Linked DNA regions of Homo sapiens. The protein of the gene in region 1 purifies or fractionates together with the protein of each later gene. This does not show direct contact. Each region holds a gene or a part of one and is shown on either strand. Other genes may lie near its edges. The genes, in order: PCDHGA3 and KCNA4.

What was found.
Region 2: the proteins of PCDHGA3 (region 1) and KCNA4 purify together in Homo sapiens (affinity purification with mass spectrometry; one large-scale study listed by BioGRID and IntAct). This does not show direct contact.

The regions. Positions count from the first base shown.
Region 1 is NC_000005.10:141,342,091-141,346,022, forward strand, and holds the start of PCDHGA3 (protocadherin gamma-A3 isoform 1 precursor), read left to right. Parts: upstream 1-1,738; 5' UTR 1,739-1,943; coding exon 1,944-3,932. UniProt on the Homo sapiens protein: Potential calcium-dependent cell-adhesion protein. May be involved in the establishment and maintenance of specific neuronal connections in the brain.
Region 2 is NC_000011.10:30,008,968-30,011,700, forward strand, and holds the end of KCNA4 (potassium voltage-gated channel subfamily A member 4), read right to left. Parts: coding exon 1,750-2,733; 3' UTR 763-1,749; downstream 1-762. UniProt on the Homo sapiens protein: Voltage-gated potassium channel that mediates transmembrane potassium transport in excitable membranes. Forms tetrameric potassium-selective channels through which potassium ions pass in accordance with their electrochemical gradient.

The DNA.
Region 1 (3,932 bases):
GGTAATAAACAGGTTTCTCCTTTTTTTTTATCTTTCTCATACGTGGGAACCATACTGTATTTTAATCTTTAAAATAATATATATCCTCAATATAGTTTTGCTTAAAGAAAAGATACAAAAGATTCATATCATACAATTGCCCAGAACCAACTTCTTTATACATCTCTCTTCTCAAGGTTTCTACTCACAATAGCTGCTAGAAATGTTCCCAATCCCTCACCCAATCCCAGTGCCCCTCTGATCAATTTTCTTTTCCCATTCCTCTTCCTATATTGGCTTTTAGTATGTTGGTTATGTATTTAATAACAGAGAATAATAAGCACACTAATGTTCTATGTAACTGGCATCATTTTTTATTTTTATTTGAAAATTATCATGTACCAATTGAGCCTTTTATTGAATGATACCATATTTCTCAAAGTGCTGTGATTCTTTCCGTTGCATTTGATCAAGAAAAAATTTTCTGAGACAAGGTGTTGTTTTGGTTACTATTACATAATTGTCTATGAGTAAAATTGGAACTCACTGTGGAATAATATGTCATAATAGCTTTACTTGTAAGTGAATAATAAAGTATAAACAGGAAAATTAAAGCAAAGTTATTTTTAGTGTGTGTAGTAACTCCACAAGAATAAATGTCTTATGCATAGATATGTAATGCATCATGATTGAAACGACAAATATATTGTATTTATATTTCTGTGCTTGGAAACTTATGGGGAAAGAGATTCTGGAACATAAAAGCTTATTTCTACTAGTTTCAGTTGGTTTTGAAAAAACATCCTTACAGTCTAGATTTAAACAAAGGAAACTTCTTTCAGTACCCTGAAGGTCTGTGATTTCTCTCTCACACCTAGGCATTGTCATGCTGTTCTCTCCCACATCCAGGCCTTTTCACTGATCCACTCCTCTCATGTTTCCTGGGAAAGCGTTTGCTAACATTAAAGGCCCAATTGAAGGCCCCCCTAACCCCCTTGGCTTCTCCCATTATGGTAATTATCTCAGTACACTGCAATTCCCTGTTTGCTTTTATATCCTTATAATCTCTGTGAAGGAAGCTACTGTGTCTATATTGTTCACCTTAAATCCCCAAACATATTGTCTGATGCCTAATTATGTGTTTGTTTAATGAATATTAAATAACAACAAATATCGAAACTAAGTTATCAGGTCACCAAGAACAAACTTAAAGAAATATAATGTATAAATATGGCTGATTTCTGTGTGTTTCTTTTCTTTTTTTCCTTGTCTCAGCTCTTAGAGAGTTAAGAGTATAGAGAGGGAAAGGTCAAAGAGGAGGTGGATATCTTATCAAATAACCCTGATAAATGTAGTAAGTATAAGAATAAACACATTATCAAGGTTCAGTGGTGGAAGAACAAGTGGTGGTCATGTCTTTTAATAGTTGTGTTGGTCCTTACGGCCAGTTCTTTGTTACTGTGTGTTTCTTAAACTGAACAATTCAAAAAAGTTAACTCCACTATGTTTGAAGCAATATTGGTGGCATTAAGGTTAGTGCATGGATTCCCAAGAAAGATAACTTGAGGTGACACTGTTTAACATATATCGATTCAATTATGTTCAATCAACACTAGTCCTCTTATCTCTGACAAGAAGGATTTCAGATCTTGGATAATTCAAAAATAATAATGTGTCTGAGAGGATGCAGTAAACGGTTAGGCCTCTTAGTGTCGCTGTTGACCACTCAAGAAGGAGAACGCAGCTGGAGAACTAGTCCACCATTTCCTTGCTCCTAAAATGCAAAGAACCAGCAAATCAGACTCAGAAGATCCGGGGCGGCTGCCAACCTCACCTCTTAGTCAACCAGCTGTTTGACCTGTGAATTAGGCCCGTAAAAGACTTCGTTTCTTGAGAAAATAAGATTGGAGTCCGTCGTAGGAAACTGGAACCGAATTCAGAGAAAGCGATTCACCGAAAAGGAAATGACCAATTGCCTGAGTTTCCGAAATGGCAGAGGACTGGCCCTGCTGTGCGCGCTCCTGGGGACGCTGTGCGAAACAGGATCCGGTCAGATCCGCTACTCGGTGTCTGAGGAGCTAGATAAAGGTTCCTTCGTGGGCAACATCGCTAACGACCTGGGGCTAGAGCCCCGGGAGCTGGCGGAGCGCGGAGTCCGCATCGTCTCCAGAGGTAGGACGCAGCTTTTCTCTCTGAATCCGCAAAGCGGCAGCTTGGTCACCGCGGAGAGGATAGACCGGGAGGAGCTCTGCGCTCAGATCCCGCTGTGTCTGGTAAAAATTAACATTCTGGTTGAGGATAAATTGAAAATTTTTGAAGTAGAAATAGAAATTAAAGATATTAATGATAATGCTCCTAATTTCCCAACAGAGGAATTGGAAATAAAAATTGGTGAACTAACGGTTCCTGGAACCCGATTTCCAATTAAAACTGCTTTTGACCCAGATGTAGGCATTAACTCCCTGCAGAACTACAAGCTTAGCCCCAATGACTACTTCTCTCTGGCTGTGAATAGCGTCTCTGAGGGGGCCAAGTATCCAGAGCTGGTGCTGGAGCGGGCCCTGGACCGTGAGAAAAAAGAAATTCACCAGCTTGTCCTGGTTGCCTCTGATGGTGGCGACCCTGTCCACTCTGGCAACTTGCACATCCAAGTGATAGTCCTGGATGCAAATGACAACCCACCAATGTTTACTCAGCCTGAGTACCGTGTGAGTGTTTGGGAGAACGTGCCTGTGGGTACCCGGCTGCTCACGGTGAATGCCACTGACCCTGACGAGGGATTCAATGCTCAAGTGTCTTATATTCTAGATAAAATGCCTGGGAAAATCGCTGAGATTTTCCATCTTAACTCAGTGAGTGGAGAAGTATCAATATTAAAAAGTCTAGATTATGAGGATGCCATGTTCTATGAAATTAAAATTGAAGCACAGGATGGACCAGGTCTTCTTTCAAGAGCCAAGATTCTAGTCACGGTTCTGGATGTGAATGACAATGCTCCAGAAATTACAATCACGTCTCTCACAAGCTCAGTCCCAGAAGAGGGCACCGTTGGAAGAGAAATTGCTCTTATCGACGTGCATGACCGAGATTCTGGGCAGAATGGGCAGGTTGAAGTTTTTGTCCTGGGAAATCTGCCATTTAAGTTAGAAAAATCAATAGATCAATATTACCGCTTAGTGACGGCCACATCCCTGGACCGCGAACAAATATCAGAATATAACATTAGTCTGAGAGCCTCAGATGGGGGAAGCCCGCCACTGTCCACAGAAACTCACATCACCCTGCATGTGATTGACATCAATGACAACCCACCCACCTTCCCTCATTTATCCTACTCCGCCTACATTCCAGAAAACAACCCCAGAGGAGCCTCCATCTTCTCAGTGACAGCCCAGGACCCAGATAGCAACAACAACGCCCGCATCACTTATGCATTGACCGAGGACACTCTCCAGGGGGCGCCCCTGTCCTCCTTCGTCTCTATCAACTCCAACACTGGCGTCCTATACGCGCTGAGATCCTTCGACTACGAGCAATTTAGAGACTTAAAGCTACTGGTGACAGCCAGCGACAGCGGGAACCCTCCACTCAGCAGCAACGTGTCGCTGAACCTGTTCGTGCTGGACCAGAACGACAACGCGCCCGAGATCCTGTACCCCGCCCTCCCCACAGACGGTTCCACTGGCGTGGAGCTGGCGCCTCGCTCCGCAGAGCCCGGCTACCTGGTGACCAAGGTGGTGGCGGTGGACAGAGACTCGGGCCAGAACGCCTGGCTGTCCTACCGCCTGCTCAAGGCCAGCGAGCCGGGACTCTTCTCGGTGGGTCTGCACACGGGCGAGGTGCGCACGGCGCGAGCCCTGCTGGACAGAGACGCGCTCAAGCAGAGCCTCGTGGTGGCCGTCCAGGACCACGGCCAGCCCCCTCTCTCCGCCACTGTCACGCTCACCGTGGCC
Region 2 (2,733 bases), on another chromosome or scaffold:
GAGAGGGGGTGCAGTTTTACTTTTAAGCCTAATGTTGAATTTACTTTGAATTTCAAATACCATTAAAGGAGAGGTAGGATTTATGTAATTATGAAATGATGGCCTGGATTTTAAAAAGCTTGAGAAAGGCTATTCTAGGTCAGTTTGTTTGTTTGTAGCTCACAGTTACCAGAGTTCACTATGTGCCGAAATAGTGTATGCAGTGTTGTTTGTTTTGTTTTGTTCCCCCGCCCCCAACCAGAGCTCAAGACAATCATTTTATAAAGAACAGAAGTTAAATAAACATTGTAGAATAAGGCCTCTTATGCATTCTGAGTTTTCTAACCTATACCTCATGATTTCATAGTGCAAGGCTGATCGCTAGTTGTTATCTCACATTCTAGAATGCTTTGTCATGACTTAAATGCAGTTATATGTGTCATAAATTCCTTTAATAAAGATAATAATGATGGTGATGTTGAAACCAAATGTTTGACACAATTCTTCCTTATGTCCATTTTAGCAAATATAATGTTAAAATCTGAGGTTAATCCCCAAATTCTGTTCTTATATAACTGCACAAAAAAATAAACTTAATAAATCTAGCGTTTATGTTTCACATTTAATAGAAAAATTTTAAGCCATAATCACTGTAGCTGCTTGGCATCTTCTTCAAGAATTCTTTCAGTGCATGCATTAACTTTGGTTAAATTATTCTGGAGTTAAAAGGCAGAAGAATATATAAAATAGTATGATTTCAGAAGCATCATTCTAACAGACCAATTTCAAAAGATTCAGTTGCTAAATTTTACTTCATAATTCCTTTGTCAATCAGTTATTTAGATTTTAAAAGAGGAGAGAATCCTGTGATGTTATCTGCATGATCATTAGTCTCACACAATGAAAAGAAAACAATAAAATAAGACTAAAGAAATCATTCTTCCAATGATTGTCATTGAACTGTTACATTAGTAAACATTCACAGTTTGAAGTCTCTCTCAATCTCCAGCATATAAAGTAGTGCAAAGAAAAAAAAATCCAGTCCTGTTACCTGCAAACAAAACTTATTACATATTCTCCAATTTCACTTATTCTATAATGTTAGACATTTGCTGTTAAGTCTTCCCAAAATTAATAACAAAATATAATCAATTTCTAAAGGCCCTTGCAGCCTTTTTAAAAGTTAATTTCCAGTTAAAAATAAATTTTAATTAAATCCAAGATAAAATTGTGACCTATAGTCTATTAAATAATTTACTTTCTTTTTTCTCTACACAGTATTTCTTACAATTTTTAAAAAACAACTACAGAATCCAAAGACATACGATATGCTGTTAAAGCACTGATAAATGACTGCTCAGATTCATTAGTTCTTACATAGTAAATACTTCAAAATGCCAACTTTTCCCTTCACTGCACAATTACTAACATTGACAATTTACTTCACACACACACACATATACACACACACGCACACACTCTCTCTCTCCATCTTTACTGTTAACATCTTTTCCAGTTAATGTGCAAAATTCTTGCATTCTAATAAAAATATAAAGATAGATTTGCTCCTATTCCTCCCTCTTCTCCAAGATGTATCATTTATTTGATATGTAATACAAGTTTAGTAACAATTATGCCATGTATAACCATTAAATAGTGTACTACTGTATGCATTGGATCATTTGCATATTTCATTTTCATAACTGCACTCTCTATGCATAAATATATTTGGAGATGCTGAGGGGGGAGCAGTGGCAGGTGGAAAAAGATTCACACATCAGTCTCCACAGCCTTTGCATTAGAACAGTTGTTTTTATCTGTCTCACTGTCATCCCCCTTTCCCTGACACTTCTCCTCCTTTGCACACAGAGATTCCTTAACTCCTTCTTCCATCTCTAGATACTCTGACTTGTCCCCCAGGGAAGAAGAAGTAGAGCTCCGAAATTTCTTGAGCAAATTAGAGGGGAGGTATGGACAACTGACTGCATTCTGCGTTAGCTGTGTCTGTTCCTCATTTTCAGTCTCTCTGTGGTAGAAATAGTTAAAGTTAGAGACAATCACTGGCACTGGCAAAGCAATGGTTAAGACACCCGCAATGGCACACAGGGACCCGACAATCTTGCCCCCTACAGTGATGGGCTTCATGTCCCCATAGCCCACAGTTGTCATGGTCACCACAGCCCACCAAAATGCATCTGGGATGCTTTGGAAATGGGTAGTAGGTTCATCCGCCTCTGCAAAATACACAGCACTAGAAAAGAGGATGACCCCAATGAAGAGGAAGAAGATCAGAAGGCCCAGTTCCCGCATGCTGGCTCTGAGGGTGTGGCCCAGGATCTGCAGGCCTTTGGAGTGCCTGGAGAGTTTGAAGATCCGGAATACTCGGACCAGACGAATGATTCTGAGGATGGCAAAGGACATGGCCTGCTGCTGCTGACCATTGCCACCCCCCTGTTGCTGGGCCAGGTCAGTGCCCAGTGTGATGAAGTAAGGCAAAATGGAGACAATGTCAATGATGTTCATGATGTTTTTGAAGAAGAGTGCTTGGCTGGGACAAGCAAAGCAGCGAACCACAAACTCAAAGGAAAACCATACAATACAGACTGTTTCCACGATGAAGAAGGGGTCATTGAATATTGTGTGCCCTGAGTTCTCCAGATGGGGTGCTGAAGTATCATTCAACAACCCACCATGCCCGCCAGCACTCAGTGCCATGACGAGATCCCTGTCGTCCCTAAACTCAGGCAAGGTTTC